3 separate regions of the Homo sapiens genome follow, and regions 2 and 3 are each linked to region 1. Evidence: fine-mapped expression QTL. A gene starts in region 1. Each other region holds a variant in brackets. All regions are shown on one strand. Distances are from middle to middle.

Region 1 (8,192 bases):
CCATTGGTCTATGTGTCTTAATACTGTGCTGTTTTAATTTATTACACTTATTTATACATACTGTTTTAATTGTTGTCGTTTTATAATATGTTTTTAAATAATGAGGTGTGAGGCCTTCAACTTTGTTCTTTCTTAAGATTGTTTTGGTTATTTATAGTCCTTTGTGGTTCCACATGAATATTAGCACTGCTTTTTTATTTCTATAAAAATTTTCATTGGGAATTAAATAAGGATTGCACTAAGTTCATAGTTACCTCATGCAGTACGAGAATTTTAACACTAGCAAGTCTTCTAAAATGTGAACATAAAATATCTTTCCATTTATTTGCATCTTCTTTAAAAAAAAGTTTTGTAGTTTTCAGTTTATAAGTGTTTGCCTTCTTGGTTAAATTTATTCCAAAGTGTTATATTCTTTTTAATATTATTACTGTAAAAAAGATTGTTTTCTTAATTTCCATTTCACATTGTTCAAGATAGTGTATGGAAGCACAGGTGATTTTTGTGTGTTGTGAAGTTAGTAGATGCAAATTTTTTATCAAAACTGTATCTAGCCAACTTAACAATTTTGAAATAAGTAATATACATTACATTGACAAGTATAAAATATAAATACATGTTCCAAGATATTTAAGATAAATACATCTTAAAGTATTGAGTGAGAAATTAGCAGATTAAGTTGTTTAGCACAATAAAATGTATTTAAATTAAAACACATAAAATCACTGAATAATAACATCTATTTTTAAGGAAACTAAAATATAACAAACGTTATGCCAAAATCACTGGGAGATAAACTGGAGGAGCAGGACATGGAAAATTGGAGTAGACATGGAGAATGCAGGGGGAAAAAGGAGATATTGACCTGTCTAAGAAAGATAGTATGCCATGAAGAATAAGTACGTGGAAAACAGTTCTCTGAACCTTAGCTTCCTTTGGGGAATCATTAGTTTTATAGCCAATACTTAAGACCATGACACTAAAGGAGAACACCTAGGAAGAGAATGTAGAAAACAAATCAAAGTTAAACAAAGTGTATTACATAAATGAAATATGTAGTGTCTCTGAAGTAAATAAAAATGATATAGTGTTTCAAGATATTGGAAATACTGAGTTGAAATCAATATTCCTGAGAGAGTGTGAGATGAGCAAAGAAGGAGGACTATTTAGTTTGTTAACATGGAAAAGCATTGGTGAAGTTGACAATAGCAATTTCAGATAACAACTGGGATAAGAGAAAGACAAACTAGGAGAAGAGTGATGTCAGGTTGAGGAAGTAAAGAGAATACTGATGACTTTTAGCTTTAGGGTAGCAAATATTGAAATAGGGCGATACATGGAGGATAATAATATTTTAGTGGGTACTGCTGTTTGGCCAGCTTGTAAAATGCAACATAGTCAAGAAGGATTCACTAAGTGAATAAATGCAATTTGACGACTATAGTTAACTAAATTTCAGGGAAGTACATGTTTTCTTGTCAGTTGGACACAGAAAAATAACAGTAAAAGTTGAGTTTATATTCCTTATATAATTGGCTTAGTTTATGAGACATTAATATGAAAATACTATGTTCTATAGTTTCTCACTTGTTTTTTAATTTAGATAAATCTTAAATATTAGAAATATATACCTAATTTTCCTTATTAGATTCACAATTAGAGATAAAATGAAACAAGTAGATTTTGATCCCCTTTCATACAGGTCTTAGAAAAAAATTATACTGTTTTTTATTTTTGGTTAAGATCTCTACCTCTCTTTCCAGGCTCTGTGCTTTTTAAAAAGCCCCTTTAAAGAAAACGAAATATCCAATTATTCTGTTGTGAAATAATTATGTGACCTATTCAGCCTAATAATATTTTAGCTAGATGCTTAGAGACTTAAAACTCATTTTAGACTTTATGGCATGCACTCTAGATTCTCCTTCAGGAAAATGTCATTGAAGAAACAGGTTTTTGGTAGTTATGAGAAATATATAGCACATGTTTTCTAGACAAAAGTAATAACTGGCTATTAATCTGAAATATTAATCTGAAAATTGTGATCATTGAAAAGAAGACTCACATCATCTCCTTCTACTTAGATTTGTCTTTTCATAAAAAATGGACTCATTAGGTTTTGTCGAATAAAATATGGTTTAATTATTAGACTGGTCCTTCACATGAGTGAGAAGGTAAAAAATTTATAGAAATGTTGGTGGGCCTTCCAATGATGTTGAGATTCCCAAGGTACTTATTGAGAATGCACCAGTTAACAAACTCCATTTTGTGATCAATACAGTGCTTCCAGAAAGATTTTATGAACTCCTGCATAAGAGGCAAATAGAAGTAATTCTTTCCTTCTCTTCTCACTCCTGGCAAGTGTTCATTCACATGCTGTAGGATTTGGTATCCTTAGAACCTGAAAGGATCCTTATGACACAGTCTCGTATCTGTTTGGTTTTCACCCCATAGACAATAGGGTTCATAGTGGGTGGTAGGAGCAGATAAATATTGGCTACAATGATGTGGCAAGAAGGGGGGATTATGTGTTCCCCAAAGCGGTGGGAAAAGAAGGAGAAGAAAGCTGGAGTATAGGAGAAAACAATGGCACAAATGTGGGCAGTGCAGGTATTAAAGGCCTTCTGCCGAGCATCTGCTGAGGAGAGGCTGACCACTGCCCGGAGAATCATGGTATAGGAGTTGGTGATACACAGTATGTCAAAGCCCCAAATCAGGAGGGCAACCATCAGACCATAGATGGCATTGACCTTGACATTACCACAGGACAATTTGGCTACAGACATGTGGTCACAGTAGGTATGGGGAAGTATATTGCCTCTGCAGTAGGGCAGGAGCTTGGTGAGGAAAGTAAAGGGAATAATGAGTAATACCCCTCTCAGGAAGGTGGCAGTCCCAACCTTTGCAATTACAGGATTGGTGAGGATAGTTGAATAGCGTAAGGGGTAGCAGATGGCCACATAGCGATCCAGGGCCATAAGCATAAGCACCCCAGACTCCATCCCTGTGAAGGTGTGGGTGAAGAACATCTGGACAAGGCATTCATCAAATCCAATGTCCTTGAGATGAAACCAGAAGATGCAGAGGGCTTTAGGGATTGTACTAGAGCACATAACAAGGTCAGTAAAGGAAAGCATGGCCAAGAAGTAGTACATGGGTTTGTGCAGGGCATCCTCATAGTGAATGAGGTAGAGGAGTCCACAATTCCCTACCATAGCCACAACATACATAGAGCAGAATGGGAAGGAAATCCAGAGTTGTGTGTCTTCCAGTCCTGGGACTCCATTCAGAATAAATGAAGCTGGTATTAGGTCTGTTTTATTCAGTGTTAGCATGATAAGTCTGGTAGGTTATGAAATAGCTCAAAATTTGTCTGGGCTTTCCTAGAGTTAAAAAAAAAAACAAGAGAAAATATAGGTTATTTTTACTGTCTCCCTCTCCCCCAACTTTTAAAAATTCCATAATGCATTTTAATGGTCCAACAACCAAATTTCTGAGTGCCAAGAAATAATTTTGTTTGTCTGTTTAGTTTTATTGATTGATTAATTAATTGATTCAGTAAAAAATTCTTATTGAGCAGTCTAAGTTTTCAACACAGATGCCAATCAAACATCAATTATTTTATAAAAAGACATATTCCCAATCTCATAGATTTATAATCAAGTATAATTCTGACTTTTCAAATGGTATTTTTATTAGAATATCTTACTTAACTATAACTATACTCATCTCAATATAGATATAATTTTAAAGAAGAGTCATTTGATTACCTCACTGATGATCTGAGAGATGAGATGTTGACTTTTTAATTTTTATTCTTAATGACTGACTGATATTTATTCTTGGGTACTCAGGCACTGTTCAAAGAATTTTGAAATTTTAATTAAATTATTACTCAATGAAGCTTGGGGTCTCAAAAATTAGTAAATTTATTGGGTGTCTATACTCAATAATAATTTAATTGTATATTTTAAAATAACTAAAATAATATAATTGGGTTGTCTGTAACACAAAGGATAAATGTTTGAGATGATGGATACCCCTATTTACTTTACTGGGATTTTTTTTTTTTTTTTTTTTTTTTTTTGAGGCAGAGTCTTGCTTTGTTGCCCAGGCTGGAGTGCAGTGGCGCAATCTTGGCTGCAACCTCCACCTCCCGGATTCAAGCAATTCTCCTGTCTTAGCCTCCCGAGTAGCTGCGACTACAGGCACATGCCACCACGCCCAGCTAATTTTTGTATTTTTAGCAGAGATGGGGTTTCACTATATTGGTCAGGTTGGTCTCCAACTCCTGACCTCAGGTAATCCACCCACATCAGGCTCCCAAAGTGCTGGGATTACAGGCATGAGCCACTGTGCCCGGCCCTTTAAAAGGGATTATTACACATTGTATGCTTCTATCAAAATATCTCATACACCCATAAATATATACACCTACTATGTGCCCACAAAAATTTAAAATTAAAAAAGTCAATGAAGTTTTGATTCAATTTTTTCACTTTTCAAGATATCTTTCTTGTTCTTTATGTATCTAGTCAACGCAAACTAGAAGATATCCAAATGCATACATACAGAAAATATATAAAGTACTTCAACAACATCAGTAAGAAAAAGTTGCAGGAAGAAACATACACTTCAAAAGAGAAATAAAATTGCCAATGAACAGGTAAATAGGCACAAACTTTTATATTAATCAGAAAAATAAGTAAAAATTGTATCTCTCATGACAAAGCACCTTTTTTTGGTATGTAGTGACATACCAAACAGGACAGCTAAAATGAAAAGAACTAAAAATACCAAGCATTGGCAAAGATGTAGAACAACTGGAACTCTCATTTACTGCTGGTAGACATGTAAATTAGAACAACTCTTTATTAGATATCTCATAATGATAAACATACACATGACCACCATTGCCATTTCCAACAAAACTATGTATATATATTTACTAGAATACATCAATTAGAATGCTTATTGAAACATGATTTGTAGTATAGCCTAAAACTGGAAAAAACCTAAATGTTCATCAACATCAAATGGGTAAATAAATTTTGGTACATTCCCACAATGAAATACCACGTAACAATAAGAATAAACAATCTATGACTATATGCATAATATAGACGAATCTCACAATATGTGTTAATTTTTTTTAGAAAGACTTAAAATAGATGTAACATCTTGTGATCTTTAAATGAAATACAAAAACGGATCAAATTATTCTGTGCTATTAGAAATAGAAAAATCTTTTTAAAAAGTGAGAGAGAGTGATAACTGAAAGGCAGTATGTGGTAGAAGGGTCCTGTTAGTTGCTGGTCATATTCCCTTACTTGATTTGGTTGTGAGATATACAAGATTCAGGTTGTAAAAATCAATCAACATGTAATTGGATTAATTGTAAAATTGCATATGTATGTTAGAATTTATAATAACAAAAATTAAATTGCCAAGAGGATTAAAGGACGTAATATGTTAAAACATGCTACCACATTTTAAGTGCTCAATACCCATATTTGTATTTTCTACTCAGGCTGGCAGCCATTTTGGCAATGCTTACAAAAATTAACACCATAGGAATCATGAGTGCCACCAAATGAACTCTCTTTTGTGCCCCATCAGAGGAGGTATTCATCCTAACCTCCATTAATAAAATACACTGTTTTAAGATTAGCATCTGATAGGAAGTACAGTCACATGTTCTGCCTTATTGGGTAAGATGAAGAGGACAGATCAGATTTATCAAAAGGCAACTTGTTTTGAAAATAGTAGAAAAACACAGGTTAAACTTGTTAATAGGCATGCTCCTCAAAGATATGTACTCAAGTCATTACAAAATGTCAGAGTTATACTGGGTGTCATAGGAGCACCTGTGTGTCTAACCTAGCCTCAGGAGATGCTCCTAGAGAAGAGGACAGATGCTTCCAGACCTGGAGCATGATTAGAATTCTGACAGGTCAAAGTGGTAGGAACAGCATTTTCTTCTGTTGCTGTTTGCTGTTTCCTACTCATATCGCACTGACATTCTCAGCTTTGTGATAGGCAAACCTCTATCTCCTTGGTGCTCCCTTTGCCCACTCCCCTCAAATGTAGCTAATCCCTATACATTCTTCAAGCAGAACCATCATCAGGAGGTCTCAAATGTCCTTTGGACATGATAGCGACCCATCCTTTAAATTATTTTAAGATAATGTAGCTACCAATAGCCTTGACTAGGGGTAAGAAATTGATTTGTTCAAACAATTATTCTCTTTAATAATATTTCCCTCATGATATTATGAAAATCAACTTATATTTAGGAATTCTCCAAAATTCAGTGAAATCACCGATGTAAGGACAGTGTCTGGTAAAGCATCCTCAGAGCCGAGCAAATCAAATCTCTCATATTAGATACTCAATAAATGTCAATTTTAAAATAAATAAACAAATAAGTAAATGAAAAAGTGAATGACTCACCCGAAACACTTTATTTTGATAATTATTAAATTATAATCTAAGTATTATTAGATTGGTGCAAACATAATTGCGGTTTTTACCATTAAAAGTAATGGCAAAGCCACAATTCCTTTTGCACCAACCTAATATTACTTGGAATGTATAAAAGAAACCACTAGAAGGAAAAAAAAGAGAAAGTTTTACTTAAGATTACTAGAAAAGCTAAACAACATAAGGCATCTCTCTCATAAAGTAGAGAAACAGAGAATACAAAGTGGAAAAAAAAAGATGACAAAGGCAGAACAAACATTGGTTTTGGATATAAAAATAATTTAAACTTCCCATCAAGTTGAAATAATTCCAACTAATTTTTAAAAATTATATATGCAGTATAAGATTTCATCAGAATGAAAATTATACACAAAGGTTTAAAAATATATACAAACATAATATTTTTAGATAAACAGTATACCTCATACTTAGGATATACTAATACTAGAAAAAAGAATTCAAAGCTAAAACACTCAAGTCAAGATCACTTTGAGAAGACAAAACGCTTAGCATTGTGTAATTAAAGGTAATTGTACCAAATTGTTTTTTTTCCAAGTTTGATAAGGTTTTTCTATAACACAAATAACGAAAAGCACTTAAATTCACATTCTCACTTTGTTGATATGGAGGGACAATGTTAATATGAGGACCTCCCAAAGTTACACTTACATTACATAGCAGCTTATAAACTCATTTTTAAATTTTTAATTAAGGTAAGTGAATGGTTCAAAAATTGAAATTTTAGCTTTGGAATTTTCAGAAGTATGTTAATTATTATTTTGTAAAAGCATAAAAGATAGTCTTCAATACATGAAATGTTTTTCTATGAACATCAAAATTACAGGATTCTGCCTTTCAGACAGAATTTATAAACTATGAATTTATATTTTATATTTGTAGTCACTATTATATTTTTCAGATTTTTTACATATACCTCATTTTTCAGATGTTTTACAATATATTATTAAGCAAAATAACTGACAGTGACAGTGGCAATAATCCATTTATAAAACTACTTTTTCAATAATTTATAAAAATTTAGTATAAACTATTCAATAGTGTCACGATTCTTTTCTCCATCTCACTTTAATATATTGAACAGTGTCTTATTAAATGTGATGCTCAGTGCTTGTTTTGGGCTATACATTGCTTTGTAAATAGCAGCTCAGGATGCACTTTTGCAGCTTTTCTTGGAGTTAAAGTGACCATTTCAAGTAATGGAAAATGCTATTTTTAATGTCTTAATGAATTATGTGTGGAAAGAACAATTACCTGGGTGGAGAAAAATATACTTGTAGATCTGTATTGAACCTGCACATATCCAAGTATGTGTTCATGGTTCCACTGCATGTGAAATAAGTATCCATGTGTTAGAAGTAGGTAGAGAAATTAGGGGAAGCATAAATATCTCCTAAACCGAAAATAGAATAATTTGCTTCTGAGATTACATGCACACTTGTATCTAAATACTAGATAAATATTTTATTAGTATTTCCTATATTTTCTTGTTTTCGGCATACCTTTAGTCACTAAAACTGGTTTTATGCTTACACAACAATTTAGGTCCCATCTTCAACACATTTACAAAGCTCTCCAAGAACTACATAACTATCTAAGTATTATTAATAAGTACAAACGTATGCAATTTTCTTCCTAAAACATTTAAAATAGTTTGTACACATCAAAGTTTAATTTCTTCTGCAAAGAAATTTGAC
Region 2 (8,192 bases), 44 kb after region 1:
CACTAGCTTTCTCCAAACCCCTCTGTAACGAACAGACACCCACTAATTTCCACCTCTTTATACTCATGCCTTTATAAAATTTCTTCCTTTTTAGAGTAGGCAGAATTTCTGAATTCCTTATAAGCAACATTATGTGGCAAAAGTGATGGGATGTTACTACCATGGTTGTCTTATATTATGTAAGGCCTTCTCACTAAAATAGTCTTCTTCTCCTGTTGGCCTTGAAGAGGCAACAACCATAGTATGAACTACCTATTGAGAGGTTCATGTAGCAAGAAACTTCAGGCAGTCTTCAGGATCAGAGGGCCTAGGTCCTACACGAGCAAGGAACTGAATTCTACTAATAACCTAAGTTAGCTTGGAAATAGGTCCTTCCCTACTCTGACCTCCACATGAAAACTCATCCCAGCTGGCACTGTGAGTTCATTATGGAGAGATCGTGAAGGAGAAAACCCATCTAAGCTGGGTCCAGACTTCTGATCCACAGATACTGTAACATAACAAATGTTATCTTACATTTATCTTGCTACTAAATTTGCAATAGCCTATTTTAATGCAGCAAAGAAAGCTAATGCAACTTTTACCTGCATGGGTAAAATACTGTACATTAATATAATCTTTATTAATAATTCAATTGAAAAATGTTAAGGACTTTGATTCTTTACTCAGATTATTCTATTTCTTAAAACAGTTAATTATTTCAAAACTAAATTAGTATGCATTCTTAAAATTATTTTTCTCAAGTCAGAGAAAAGAATCCAAGAAAAAAAATAACATATACCACTCTTGTGTCAGTGCATATGTTCCATGAAATAGCAGAAGTTATTACAAATATACTATTATTTAATTCTCATAATATCACTGCCAGGTAGGTCTTATAAGGGCCACTAGGTGGCTATGTCATCATTATGTAAAATTCCACCTGTTTTCAGAATGCAAGTTTGTAACCATTCAATTATAAAGTTCATCCTCTACACCAAGAGGAGGGAACATTTTCGTCATGTCATCTGCAATAGCCTACTTGTCATAAAGTGCTTCCATGTCCTTCTTCCTCATTTATGGCTATATGTATTCAGATTATCAATTTACATTTGATGGCACCTAAAGTTTTTCTTAAAACTCCTGCAGATCAGCATTTCCTGGGCTCTCCCTTCTGTCCCCATCTCCTGGGAAATTGGCTGCGGCCTTCTCCATGGCAGTGTGGTACAGAGGAGTGAGCATAGGTGCTTAGTAACACAGGCCTGGTATTAATCCTGCCTCTTCTACTCAATAGCTTTGGGACCATCAGGAAAACTCTAACAGCTTATTGACTCCTTCAACCCCTTTATATAAATTTCTCTTTGGCCAGGCACGGTAGCTCACGCCTGTAATCCCAGCACTTTGGGAGGCCAAGACAGGCAGATCACCTGAGGTCAGGAGTTCGAGATCAGCCTGGCCAACATGGCGAAGCCCCATCTCTACCAAAAATACAAAAAAAATTAGCCGGGCATGGTGGCACGTGCCTGTAATCCCAGCTACTCGGGAGGCTGAGGCAGGAGAATTGCTTGAACCCAGGAGGCAGAGGTTGCAGTGAGCAGAGATTGTGCCATTGCAGTGAGCCGAGATCGTCCCATTGCACTCCAGCCTGGGCAACAACAGCAAAATTCCGTCTCAGAAAAAAAAAAAAAAATCTCCTTTTTATGATATTTGTACAGATTATCTTGGATAATGTTCATGTGTGTATCTATAATATATTTATACATATTATTATATGTATATATACCTATATGTATAGATATATGAATGAATGTGTATACATGTCTATATCAATCTCAAGCCAGGCACTTTCACACTATTCCTTTCTTCAAAGTCCAACAAATCTTGATGTGAATTCTGTACAATGGCATAACCTGCCCTAATTTATAATGTATACATGATGGTTAATTTTACATGCTAATTTGACTGGTCATAGATTGCCCGGATTAAACATTATTTCTGGTGGTATTTGTAAGGGTATTTCTGGTTGTATTTGTAAGGGTGTTTCTGGTTGTATTTGTAAGGGTGTTTCTGAAAAAGATTAGCACCTGAATAGCTGGACTCAGTAATGGCTACCTCTCCAAAGCTTGCCCTCCCCCAAGTTGCTGGACATCATCTAATCCATAAAGGATCTGAGTAGGAGAAAGGGTTGAGGAAGAAGATATTTGCTTCTTTTCCTGCCGCAGTACTTGAGCTGAGACATGTCACCTCATCTTTTTCTGCCTTTGTACTGGCATTTATACCATCAGCTCCCTGGTTCTTAGGGCTTCAGAGACACACTGACTTATATCACCAGCTTTTGGGTCTCTGGTTTCCAAATGGCAGATAATGGGAAGTCTTAGCCTCCATAATCAAGTAAGCCAATTCCTCATAATAAATACATATCTCTTATTGTTCTGTTTCTCTGGAGAACCCCGACTAATACAATATATTTCTTCAAGAATGTTTTGTGTCTTTGCTATCCTAGGTAGTTCTACTACTCATCCTGTGTTTGAAAAAAGACTTAAAAAAAAAAAAAAAGAAAAGTACCTAGGATGGTAAATGCAATGGTACACACAAGTGTTTCATTACGAGAAACAGATCTGAACAGCATAAGGCTGTCTCTTATCAAGGACAGCTGAGCCTAGACATGACCTTCTTTACTGGACATATGGAAACTCATATTATCTGCAGCAAGATTTTGGAAACTGAAGAATGAGACTTCAGTAGAGCCAGCTATTGTTTTATTGAAGCAAAAAGAAAACAGAACAAAAACAAAAAATTGTTTCCCAAGACATTGAAATGGCTGACATCTTTTCAGTAATAATCAGAACAATATTTATTTTTATATTTAAAATTCATAGAAAAGTGCCTTACATTTAATAAAAGTTTGTTTCTCAAAGTGATCAGAGGAATTAGATATAGTCTTGAACACCAATATTAATTTGAGGAAAATACACCAAAATACATTAAGTAAATTATTTAAGATCATAGAGCTTGTAAGTGAAAAGATAAAATTTGACCTCAGAAACTCTGAGCATTAAAAATCCACTATTAGCAAATAAATTACTATGGACTTCTTGCTTTAATTTTGTGATGAATATGGGGTGTCACTGGTAAACCAACACATTCTGAAGGATACATTACTTAGTGATAGATTCTTATGTACTTTGCTAGATAACGTGGATATGAGTTGACAAGTTTCTCTTTCTTCAATCTTTTAAGGGGCAGAGGAAATGAGGAAGAAAAGAAAAGGAATTACAGCAATACTGTTCTTTCTATAGGAAGGATTAGATATGTTTCCTTTGCAAATATAAAAAAAATAATAATGTTTACTACTAGTGAAACCAAGGTATTAGGAAAATAATGTACAAGCATCTCTTGCAAGAAAGGGTAAGATTGTTATGAGTGAAATCGTGCCTTCCTCAAATTTATATGTTGGAGTTTTTATTCCCAATACCTCCAAATATTATCTTATTTGGAAATAAGGTCTTTGTAGAGAATATAATGTTAAAATGATTTCATTAAGGCATTAGCGGTGGGCCCTGAGCCAGTATGACTGGTGTCTTAATAAAAAGGGAAAACTTGGGCACAGAGATGTACATAAAGACAATGTGAAGAGTCATAGGGACAAGATGCCTTCTACAAGCCAAGGAGAGAGGCATGGAACAGAGCCCTTCCTTGCAGACCTCAGAAAGAACCAACTCTGCTGGAATCTAGATTTGGGATTTCCAGCCCACAGTACGGCAATACAATTACAGTTTAAATCAGCAATCTATGATGCTTTGCTATGGAAGCCCTAGCAAATGAATACAAAGACATTCTAAGTAAAAGAAGGGGAAAGAAAGGAAGAGATGGTCTCAGTAGAGATGAACTCAGGTGCAGAATCTGAGTCTCAGCACAAGGGCTACTATGCAGAAGTGGGTAAAGGAATGAGAACACTCAGGAGCTCGGTGGGCACACAGTCATGGGGACTAGGCAGTTCCAAGGATTGAAATACGGATAAGCAGGTCGAGAAAAGCGACATCCAGAGAACTTGTAGATGAGTGCTCCGTGGTTTGTGACATTGAAAAATGAGACAATGCCTGCCTCATAGTCTAGGAAAACCCCAATACGACAGGGAGGCACAGCCATAAAGAGAGTCAAAACCTTGGGATCAGAAGAGGAGGAGTCCTCAAAAGCATTATATTCACATGTATTCTGTAATCCTATAACCCAGTAGCCATATTGAGGTCTATATCTGGAGTAAACTTTTGAATAATTTACACTTGGATCAAAAGCAAACCCAGAGCTCTTCCTTTTATTCAGACTACTTATTTTACTGTGTACGCCCAGGATCCAGGCAATCTTTCCAGACACATCTACTTCCCAGTAATATTTCCCCGAAGAGAAATATTGGCAGCCGAAGACACCAAAAGCAGAAAAATCACATGGATTTGAATTCTTAAATGTGCAGGTGCGTACAGTTTTCACTTGTCTCTGATCCACAGAAATAGCAACATTCGAAGTGGCACTGCCTGGATTCA[G/A]CATCACGTCCACTGTAGAAAAAATTACCAAGTCAAGTGAAGGATATGGGATAGGTGTGTCTTACAGCATTGAGAAGAGACATATTGAAAATGAAACTTGTGTCGATATCAAACGGAACTTGTGTTGATAGTCAGAGGTTAGTAGGACCCTTAAGAAATACAGGGTGTAAGACTATAAAAATTAGCCAAGCGTGGTGGCACACGCCTGTAATCCCAGCTACTTGGGAGGCTGAGGCAGCAGAATCGCTTGAACCCAGGAGGCAGAGGTTGCAGTGAGCCGAGACCGCGCCATTGCACTCCAGCCTGGGCAACAATAGCAAAAATCTATCTTAAAAAAAAAAAAAAAAAGAACTACATGGTTTAAGCATGTTTGGGGAGGAACACATGAGACTCAGATTATGAGATCTAATAGTAACCACAATTCTGAAAGGAAGTGATTTGAAAACCCCATATCATCTTACCCCAGTAGTACTGGACATCTGTCAGCTCTGAAACGACAAAAGTTTCAGTGATGTTGTTAGAAGCAAATAAGTAAGTACTGACACCTGTCTCTTCTCCAGAGTAGGGAAAGGAAAGGGGGAATACTGGGATTCTTTGCACTGGTGAATGAGAGGATGAATCAGACACCTGGTCATTCCCCCTAAGACAGGACCACATCTACAGCACAGGATTTTCCTCCTTCTCTGGCCCACCTCCTCTCCTATATCCTAACCTAAAAAAACCTCCCGCTTCCCTATTGAGCCCTGATACTAAGAAATCCACATTCACAGCCTTCCCCTGAATCCCCTTACCTTTAAGAACTTGCAGCATCCCACTCAGATCTGGTACTCGGAATACACTCTTTAGTTTCTTGGAAACAGATTTTGGCTTCTTCAATGTCCAGCTTTCACTCCTAGTGATAACAAAAATTGATAACCTTTACACCTTTGCCCTATTTCTCTCCATCCAAGATCACTGTCTCTTTCACCTTTCACCATACTTGCTGACGCACTTGGACCCTCTTCCCTGAGGACAGTAGAGGGGAGATGCCTGACACTGGAGTCCAGAGAAATGTGCTCATGTCTACCTGTCTGTGTGTAATCTTGGGAAGGTCTTCCCCTCTGTGTAATCTTGGGAAGGTCTTCACTTCAACGATGTTCGCTTTCTTACTTTTAAAATGCAATAATTAACCCCATGCTTTCTACCTCTTAAAAATGAATATAAAATTAGATAAAATAATAATGCTTTTGTTTGTTTGTTTGTTTGTTTGTTTTGAGATGGGGTCTCACTCTGTTATCCAGGCTGGAGTGTAGTGGCGCGACCTCGGCTCACTGCAACCTCTGCCTCCCAGGTTCAAGCCATTCTCCTGCCTCAGCCTCCCAAGTAGCTGGGATTACAGGTGCCTGCTACCACATCCAGCTAATTTTTTTGTACTTTTAGTAGAGACAGGGTTTCACCATGTTGGCCAGGCTGGTTTTGAACTTCTGACCTCAAGTGATCCGCCTGCCTCGGCTTCCCAAAGTGCTAGCATTGTAGGCGTGACCCACTGCACCCAGCCAATAATGCTTTTAAAAGATATTCAGTGCCTCTAAAAAACTTATTTAATATTTAGAAAAGTCATTGCCATCTCAGTGGGTCCACCAGGAAGAGGCCAGAGATGTGGGTTCCTAGACAGGTGGTCATTAAGGAGGCCATAGAATCTGTCTCCTGAGTTGTTGAGAGATATCAAAGTAGGATCCTATATTGAAGAGCTAAAGGGTTTCCAAAATCTGTTATCCCAATATGAGACCTAGAGAATAATGTCTGAGGTTTCAAGTTATTTGGGGAAAGACAAATTACGATGACTAAATTAATTAATAGTGGTCTGATTTTCATGTGTTTAAAAAAACTTTGATGTTGCCAAGTAGGTGGGCAACTTTAGACACAAGAATATTATTTTTTCCTACAAGACGGTAAAGTATGTGAGCAAGAAAAGGTTATGCTAGCACCAGGACCAAAGCCACTATTCCTCAAGACTTGAATCTATTTTTCTAGAAATCTAAAAAGCACCACCTAGAAAGTTATTGTTTATTTTATTCTCAGGGAGGAAAACAAACATAAAGGCGCTGTCTCTGAAAAATTTGGAGTCTGGCATATAAAAAGGGCAGAGCCTCACTGCAATAAGACAGGCATCTATGCAATATGGAAACAACAGAGACAGAGGTTTGAATAAAGTGAGTGAAGTCATGGGGTTCTGATATTGCAAACTCTTATTCCTAAGGCCTCCGTCGACCCTAACTCTGTGATCTCCCAACACCAAAATTTCTTACAATTGAAAACTTTAATCTGTGACTAGCAATTTGGGACAATTTAATACACAAATTTCCCAGCCTTTTGATTTTTTAAGTTGTTCTGATTGAAGGAAGATATCTCTCAGGACTATAATTCTCTTTTCAGACAAATAAGACCACATCTCTCTTCCACATATACCTTTTCATGACGTCAATCACATCCTGGGGAAAAGATAGAAAACATGAGTCAAGATAGGGTTGCCAGATTTAGAACATAAAAGTGGCTAGTTCAATTAGAATTTGGGATAAACAATATATTTTTTGTTATATATATGACCCTTATAATATTTAAGATATTCTTATACTAAAAATATTACATTTCTTTTATCTGAAATTAAACTTTAACTGAGCATCCTGTATTTTGTCTAGCAATGCTCAAAAAAGTAATAGGCCCTCCTATCTTACAAAGTTTTATCCACCTTCCTCCCCACACTCTTACTATCCCTGGATATGGTGGGAATAAATAGATGGTCACAGACTGGGGACAAAGTGTGGAGATAAGATTCAGACTGACCACTGCAGAGGACTAAGATGAGGGTGTTAGGAAGATGCTTCAAGTATCTCAAGAAGGAATATATTTTAAAAAGAGGGAGGAGCTCTAATATTTTTATACATTTTTAATGAGAAAACCTCATTAATTCATTGTGTTTTTATTTTATACATCAACAGACACAAAACAGCGAAATACGTTTGCCCTATATTTTTTCAGGCTTTAGGGATCTAATGATGAAAATTAATAATAAAAGTCCTTAAGAAGTGTACTGTTGCCGTGAGCAAAAGCAAGCAAGCATTTCAACTAAAAGTTTGTCTGGCCTCCATGTACTCACTGTGTATGCTGACTAAACTCCACTGTAGGTGATCTCATACATTTTTCAGTATGAAACAAGCCACAGGACCAAGTAACTGAGTAGGTCTTAAATGTAACTTACTATTTCCCAACTATTTACACCCCACTGTCCCGAATAGTGTCAATATCCACTTAGTCATCATCTTTGAAACTATAAAATTTTATCCTGGATTCCAACATTTTATTAACCTAGACTAGTTTACATTTTTAACTGTTTTTAGCTATCTTTTCTTTCTCACCATAACCATTATTTCCTTTATTTTTTTGAACAAGTATGTACCAATATATTTGATCTCCCGCTGTCTGATCTGACCCCCTTTATACCAACAAAGACTTGACCTCCAGTTGACTTCACACCCTCAGAAATAGTTTCACTGCCTGTATTAGCTTTTTTGTTGTTGTAATATCTGACAAAACCAACTAAAACTGGTTTAAATTTTTAAAAAACAAATTCAAGGGGTCAAGTATAATTTTACTCATAGCTACATCTTTAAACTAAAATCTTGCCATCAGAAT
Region 3 (8,192 bases), 29 kb after region 1:
TCCCTATAAAAAGTGATTATTTTTTCTCTGAAAAATGGACAGTGCTCAGCCTACTTCACTGAGTTTCACTATTTGTGCACTGTTTATCCCAACATATTTGAAGTGTCCCAATAAAACACTTATATTCCTGACAGAGACAGAGCTTTGAAGAGCTGGGCATTGGCTTTCTACCTCAGGACTGATACTTTCCCAGGACAGGAGTGTCTGTGAACTTCCACAAGGGAGTTTTGTGTTCCCTCCACCTAACAGGGTAGGATGGCATATAAGCGGATGACAAGCAAAAAATGTGTACTATTGGCGAACTCAAAATTGAAAATGCTAATTTGTTAAGAGAATGTGTTTGATAAATTGTCTGAAGCTATTTGGTGAGGAGTGGACAGAAAGCTCAGTATGTACAGTAACTGGTTTCCAATCTTAGTTTCATGGATATAGTTAGGAACTTTCCATCACCACATGGAGTTACTAGAATCAAGCTTAATCTTCTTTTCATTATAAATAAATAGAAGAATTAATAAATACAGACTAATTTCATAATTAAGAATTCCCATTCTGAGTGGTTTGGGTAAGTGGCCATTTCTTATAGGTTCAGGAGATAAGTCAATGACTTCTGAAAGGTCCTCCCATTGTATGTATGTACAAGAATAATTGGAAACTGCTTGTGAGGGATGATATCCAAGGTCATTCAGACTTAGGTTAGTTCCTGAGAGGCTGGAGACAGGAGTGTACCTGTGAGATAAATAGAAAATGTCTAGAAATGAAGAGTTATTCCTAACCTCTCTTGTGCCCTCATTCATAGAAGTCCTAAAGGATTCTAGTTTTCACAGCTTTGTTCTGCCACTAAGTAACATTGTGGATGCTGGTGGATCTTTTTCTCCTCTTGGTTTGAAGCTCTAATGGAGAAATACAGGGTTTATGGAAAAGCATGATAAATTTTTTGCGGCTTTAACTACTTTAACTGTGGCTATATTGTCCTATCTTCTGATTCTTGCAGCTGGTAAGATAGCTGGTATATCCTAAGGTATGAAATTAGAAATCCATGCCTGGAATATTGGAAGGGTGCCAGGAAATGAGAAGAGATCTTATGGCTATGCAGGGACTCTTCTAAACTGCAGCAGGGTAGAAACCCTCCAGAACACAGTGGGTTGTTTTCAATATCTGCACGTTACCCAGGTTGCAAGAATCTTCCCATGTTTACACTTCTCTGAAAGGAAAGAAAGAATGCCCTTCTCTGTGATTTATCATTCTTGGAAATGGTCTAGAAAGTTCTGCAGAAGACATTATCCCCCTCTTAAAAGCTCTTTCTGGTCTCACATACTGAGGATTATCTTGAAAAGGTTTTTTTTTTATTTTGGATTAAGTCCCTCTATACTCCAGGGTCACTCAGATGCCTTGATGCCCATTTCCTGCCCACTTTGAAACACCCTGACAACTCTTTTACGGATCTGTTTGGTCTTAACTCCATATACCACAGGATTAAGAGCAGGTGGCAAAAGCAGATAAACATTGGCCAAAAGAATGTGAATATGGACTGGAACGTGATGGCCAAAGCGGTGTGTAAAAAAGGAGAAGAGGGCTGGTGTATAAGAGATGAGGATGACACAGACATGGGAACCACAGGTCCCTAGGGCCTTGGACCGAGCTTCATGGGATGAGAGGCGAAGGACAGCTTGTGCAATTAGGGCATAGGAGAGACCAATGCAAAACAAGTCAACCCCAGTGACCAACAGTGCAGCTGTCAGCCCATACACACGGTTAGGCCTGGTGTCTCCACAGGCCAGCTTCACCACAGCCATGTACAGTACGTGTGTAGGATCACATGGCTTTGGCAGAAGTTCAAACGCCCAATAAAGAAGGGACATGGGAGCATGAGCAGGGAGCCTCGCACTACAGCTGCCACCCCTATGTGGGCAATGATGGTGTCAGTGAGGATTGTGGCATAGCGGAGTGGGTGGCAGATGGCCACGTAGCGATCAAAGGCCATGGCCAGTAGCACAGTGGACTCCATCATGCAGAAGGCATGAATGAAGAACATCTGTGCCAGGCAGGCAGAGGCAGATATATGTCCGGCTCCACACCAGAAGATAGCCAGTAGCTTGGGAACTGTGGAGACAGAGGCAGCCAAGTCGATGGTTGAGAGCATGCACAGAAAAAGGTACACAGGCTTGTGCAAGACTGGTTCAGTGGCAACAACAACCAGAATAGTTATATTGCCCACAATTGTGGCTGTGCCTAAGCCACACACAGGGAGTGAGAGCCACAAATGAAATTGTTCCAGACCTGGGATGCCCAGGAGGAAGAAGACAAGAAGGGTCAACATCAGTGTGATGAGGAGATTCCATGTTGTGGCCAAGAGTGCTGGACATTCTCTGTGGTCAGAAACCTCCACATAGTATCACATTATCTGGAGGAACAAGATAGAACAGAGATAGGAATGAGAGAATAGTAACACTTACTGGCTATATCATGTTTAGAAAGCTTCATCATCCATAAAATAGCAATAATAATCATATCTATTCCCTATAGAGAAGAGAATTATATGGGTTAATATGTCTAAAGATTTCTAAAGAGCTTTGAATAATACCTGATATATAATGCTTATTAAATAAAATAAATGAACGTGAGAAAAGGCTCAAATAAGCCTTTAGATAAACTAGAATTGTCTCCTAGCTAAGGCTATACACATATACCTGAATACATACATACACACAAAGAAACACACACACATACATACACACTGTCTTTTATGGAGTATAAGAAGAAATTAGGCATGACTATCAGTTTGGTGACACAAACTACAAACATAGTTCACTGGGTAATCTTGGACTTTTTTTTTCTTGTCCTTTAAGTTGGAATAGATTCTAATTTGGGACCCTGTACTTAGTAATTATTTTTGAACTTAATATTACTCTAGTCGTTTCCACTCTTTTTACTAAGCTATAGATATATTTTCACATATATCCGCTCAATCTTCATCTGAAATTTCATAAGATGCTTCAGCTATCCTTTCCCCAAAATGTTGAAGGTAACCCTTTTGGACTTCATTCTATTTATGAAACTGAAAATTCCAAGCTTTTTCAGCCCACATCTTGGTCAATCCTTTATTCACATTCCATCTGCTGTACCTGGTAATTTCTAAGAAAGGGCATAGTCAAATCCTTCTCAATGTTACCATTCCACAGTGGCAAGAAGCGATTTTACAAGAGTACTTTGACTTTACCTGGACAGTGATGACTAATGTGCCTGATGTCAGAATACTAGGGGCAAAAAAAGCTCAAGGAAATCTAAGGTTCTGCTGATTCCCTCTGCCTAGTTTCATGCTGTTCATCTTTATAGCGTCTGTCCATCTCACTAGGCACACAAATTCCCCCTTCCATGCTTCATGAGAAATTACTGCTTGTTAGTAATTTCAGGAATATTATAGTGAATGCCATAAACTTTCTTCACAATGCCTCGCATGTCTTTCATCTGGTTAACATATCACTTGCTTCTTCCTTTCCAGGTAGTTCCCCACTGTGTTCCCCTTTCCAACTACTCAGCTTAACGCCAAACTATAATTTCTGTTTCAGGATGCCTGCTAACTAAAATTCCAAATTAGACTCTACAGAGGTGTTACTCGGGGAAATTTCCTTTCCTGGATATTCTCCATGCTTTCAAGCAAATCTTTAAATCTTTATTTTAAATCTTATTCTCCATGCTTTCAAGCAAACTTTCCATAACCAGTTTGCACAGAAAAACTTCTCTTGAGGGCTAAGAAATGCCTTTTCCAGAGTCTTTTCCTAGCCAAACTCACAGGATTCCAGGAGAGCAGAAAAGAGAAGGCACCACAGTGTAGAAGCATCCTCAGAAGATTGCAAGAACATTACAAGTCTCTGCTCACCCTCAACTATCTGAAATACATTTCACAGCCCCCTGGGAGTGTACTGGCTTGCACTGAGTTTAAGGCTAGAGCTGCCTAGGGAGCCTCTGTGTTCCCTAGGAAATTGGGCATTCACGCCCTACTCTTCTGAATGCAGTCCAGATCAGAATGTGAAGGTGAAGCCAGAGGCTTTTGTTAAAGATTCAGGGAAGACATATTTGTAGTCTGTTCCCTTGGAGTTCTTTTCCTGTTGTTTTGGTTTGGTTTTAACTCCCCACATATCAGTACTGGCACCATTTCCATAAGGGCAGCTAACATTTTAGAGTCATTGAGGATACAAATACTGTGGTTACTTGAAGGCAGTTCTACCACCCAAAGGATTCCAGGACATGCTTTCTTTCCCCTCCACTCTTTTCTGTGATTATCTCTGGCGCATTCTGCTATGTTTACTTTTTCCTAAGACTCTAATACTGTAGAGAATTTACTACACATGTTCCCAGACTTGCTGACTGGCTTTGTAAAATGCTCTGCTGATTTTTTTATATTGCCTGTGAATGATGTAGCAAGATGGTAATGAAACTCAATAGGAAATTGTACCCATACATGATATCTAGGAGATGTGACTTATTAAAGACAATTTTTCACCATATAAAGTAATTATCTTACGAACTGAGCACACCAGAGAAGACATGCATTAAGCATTACCAAACCTATATCTCCTGGTGGCCTTTGCTGAAAACCTGTCCACTGTACTTATTTCAGTAAACTATATTGTCAAAGAGCTCATTTGCATTAAACCTAAAACCTAATTTTTCTATGGACTAACTTACTCTTGGTACCAATACTCTAATACTCAAATATTTATTTGGTATAGCCCTACCACTACTGTAATTTACTCCACCATGCATCCCTGACCTTC[TTCA/A]AGTTATGAATGAGTGTCTTAAACCTCTCAGAAAAGTAGCTCCTGCCATGATCTGGATTCCACATTATGCAGGGAGAGTTTGGAGAATTGTCAATGTAGAACTGTAGTCTTTTTCCACAGTTTATGGCAGTTGGACTCCTTATCATCTTTACTTAAGTCGGTCTCCTTATTCTCTTTCCAAAAGCTCCCCTGGTTATTTTCTCCTTCAGCCACACCCTATCTAAAGAGATCTATCCTTACCATGAACAGTGCCCACACCTGGACTGGATCTGAATTCTGGTGATCATACTCTATCTTAGCTCCTGAGAGGCTCTCTAAGCCAGTGGTTTGAAAATGTTCTTGTACTTCTAAACTACTTACCGCTCCTGTTAAGCAGATTGCTAGTCCACATCCCCAGAGTTTCTAATTCAGTGAGTTTGGAGCACGACCTCAAAATTTCCTTTACTAACAAATTTCCAATTAAAGGGAATGCTGTTGGTCAAGAGATCATACTTTAAAGAAACACCACCCCCAAAAAAAATTTTTTTTAAGTTTTTTGATTGAGTTTTTCTCCCCAAACTGCTATCTGGTCTGCACTCTTCATGAGTTCTACTGGACAATTTGGCTACCACAAATATCCTTAATAAGTCATGTTAAAAATCTAGAGCAGAATAGGCTTGCAGCAACTTTCCTTTCCTAGAATCTTGACCTGAAAAATTTTACCTTTCTAGAGCTAAAGATGCCTCCAAAAGCCTTCAACCCACTGGGAATTTTTTTGTTCATCCCACAAAACAAGTCTACCTCTCAGCAACTTCTGGGAAAATTTGTGAATAATGCATTCTATGGAGAATGTAATAGCCCTGTGGAGTGTCAACTTGCACAGGCAAAACTATATTCCCTGGAATTCACTTTCTATTATCTTTTCAGATAAGTGGACTACTGGAAATAATCTCTTGTGAGACTTAAGATGGAAGGGAAATAACAGCCATTGCATTGCACACACACCACTCTCAGTTATTCAAACACGAATACAGGTGTTGCTGCAAAGTTGTTGCGGAGATATACCAGAATACCCTAATCAGTTGGCTTTAAGTTAGGTGAATTATCTGGGGTGGGCCTGACTTAATCGGTTAAAAGACCTTAAAAGGGGCTTAGGGCTTCCTTGGAAAAAGAAAGACTCATACCTCTAGAAACCAGCTTCATCCCATGCCTGGGCAGATTCCAGCATGCTCGTGATTTTTACTTTCTCTGACTGTCCACTCTGTGAACTTTGGACTTGCCTAGCCAGCCTCCACAGTTATGTAAGCCAATCCCTTGAATGTGTATGTGTATGTATATATCTCTCCTAATGGTTTTGTGTTTGTGATTGAATCTTGACTAATAAAGAAACCAATGTGTTTTCTCCATTTATTTTACTATGTCATTATTGTATTCTGCAAGGAATTTGGGGTGTTAGCAATAAGCACTAGAAATGGAAATAAGACACAAATCAGACACTGCAAAAATGGAAGTATAATATGATGTTACTACAGAAGCCCAGTGAAAATCTGTATGTAATCTTAGACTGACTATATTACTTTTTAAGAAAATACGAGACACAAGTAGTATGAGATATTGCTGAACTAAAAAATTAGAAATGTGTAATAAATGGTAAAAATGTTAGAAGCATTTCTAAATGCTTCTAAAGCAAGAATAAAAAGGAGTACGCAATCCCCCTGCTCCTTCCATATTGAGTATTGTACCAAAGGTCACAGCCATGCAATAAGAAGAAAAGATAATTAAAAAATAGGAAGCATGAATGGTATTACAATTTGCATAGAAAGTATAAGAGAATCTACAGAGAATTTGTTAGTCTATAAAGATTTCAACAAGATTGATAGATACAAGTTCAAAATAAAGAGATAAGCAAAAATTATAAAAAATTATGGAATTTTTTATGAGTATAAAATGATGAGTTCATGCCCTTTGTAGGGACATGGATGAAGCTGGAAATCATCTTTCTCGGTAAACTATTGCAAGGACAAAAAACCAAACACCGCATGTTCTCACTCATAGGTGGGAATTGAACAATGAGAACACATGGACACAGGAAGGGGAACATCACACTCTGGGGACTGTTGTGGGGTGGGGGGAAGGGGGGAGGGATAGCATTAGGAGATATACCTAATGCTAAATGACGAGTTGATGGGTGCAGCACACCAACATGGCACATGTATACATATGTAACTAACCTGCACATTGTGCACATGTACCCTAAAACTTAAAGTATAATAATAATAAAATAAAAAAAAATAAAAATAAAAATAAAAAATTGTTAAGCACAACATTTTGCTGACGACTTTTTTTTCTTTGTAGGTTTGTAGTGGCTTAAATATGTGCTTAGTACTTATTTCAGACAAGCAGTACTCTGTTCTTCAGCCATTAATGCTCCTGCAAATTTTCCTTGATCTCTGGTCTTCCATTTATAGAAAAGGCACTTCCTGGTTAGTTCTCTCTCTTTTTTTTTTCTCCTGAAGGTTGGACTGTTTGTTTCAAGCTCTGAAATATCCCACCTTTCTGAGCCTATGTTATTAAATTTTTTGTTTACTTCAAGCCTTAATTATTAGTATAACTAGAACAACACTCTGGAAAAGTTGCATTTATTTTCCTGACATTTTAAGAGTCTCATTTAAATAGTGGTCATGTGGCTTTTAAAGTAGGTGTCTTTTTCACTGAATTCTGCCTTTACATATTAGCTATACAATATGATGAAAAATCCTAAAATATTTCAGGCTACAAACTTCATGAGTCTTAAAATATTTGCCACTATATTCCAAATCAATGTCTGGAAGTGATAAACAATATCTCCTGAACTTAATGTATTCACATATCTTGGCACACGATCTGAACTCTACACACCACTCCAAGTGCTTGTTCATGATTTCTTCCTTGATTTCCAGAGAAATGGCCTGGCAGAATTCTGTAACCAAGACTTCCAATATAACACTGACTTTTATAACTATGACCCTTCACAGAACATTCTCAGAATTTTCTCTTTGCTAGAGATTCTTGTCATATGCTGGAATTAGTTGAGACAAGCAGAACAGTTGACTCTAGGAATTTTTATAAATATAAAATTTGTTAGAATGCATATCCACCTTCTAAGAGTAAGAGTTTCCCATTTTCTCCTTTTCCTTTGAAATTTCTCTGGGAATTTCAGATTATGTTTTCTGTACATATTCCCTAGGCTTATAAGGAAGGAACCAGTTCTGTTGCTCAAGTGTAAGTCTTCTGCAGTAAGGATAACATAGTGACTAAATTCAATCTTGAACATTCATTGTCCTTTTTGACTCCTCCTAAGCAATCTTCTCCATTTTACCTTCCCCTTGAACACACAAATACACACACACACACCTACACACACAGCTTAGCCTTATCTTGGCAAAGTAAGTAGCA

Direction of the effects. Positions count from the first base shown, and alleles are read on the strand shown. Sizes are in standard deviations (SD) of each study's normalised expression. Not every link is listed here.
With allele G in place of A in region 2, the expression in whole blood of the gene that starts at base 3,827 in region 1 is lower (moderate effect, 0.61 SD a copy in GTEx).

The links. PIP is the estimated chance that this variant, and not a neighbour inherited with it, causes the effect.
Region 2: its variant is fine-mapped to the expression of OR52N4 in whole blood (TOPMed, PIP 0.97). The same link has a PIP of 0.9 or more in lung.
Region 3: its variant is fine-mapped to the expression of OR52N4 in whole blood (TOPMed, PIP 0.97).

The regions. Positions count from the first base shown.
Region 1 is chr11:5,749,878-5,758,069 of GRCh38, reverse strand. OR52N4 (olfactory receptor family 52 subfamily N member 4) reads right to left here and starts at 3,827. Exons shown (of 2, transcript NM_001005175.5): 1 at 3,765-3,827; 2 at 2,112-3,377. The coding sequence starts at 3,329. The coding sequence ends at 2,364.
Region 2 is chr11:5,705,393-5,713,584 of GRCh38, reverse strand. It overlaps TRIM22 (tripartite motif containing 22), which reads right to left. Exons shown (of 8, transcript NM_006074.5): 5 at 6,969-6,991; 6 at 5,312-5,412; 7 at 4,982-5,008; 8 at 2,722-4,532. The coding sequence ends at 3,937. Among named protein-coding and RNA genes, the nearest start is that of TRIM22, 20 kb to the right of the region's middle. The variant G/A (reference allele first, on the strand shown) is at 4,521.
Region 3 is chr11:5,720,649-5,728,840 of GRCh38, reverse strand. It overlaps a transcript of OR52N4 not described here and the pseudogene OR52P1. Among named protein-coding and RNA genes, the nearest start is that of OR56B1, 12 kb to the left of the region's middle. The variant TTCA/A (reference allele first, on the strand shown) is at 4,776.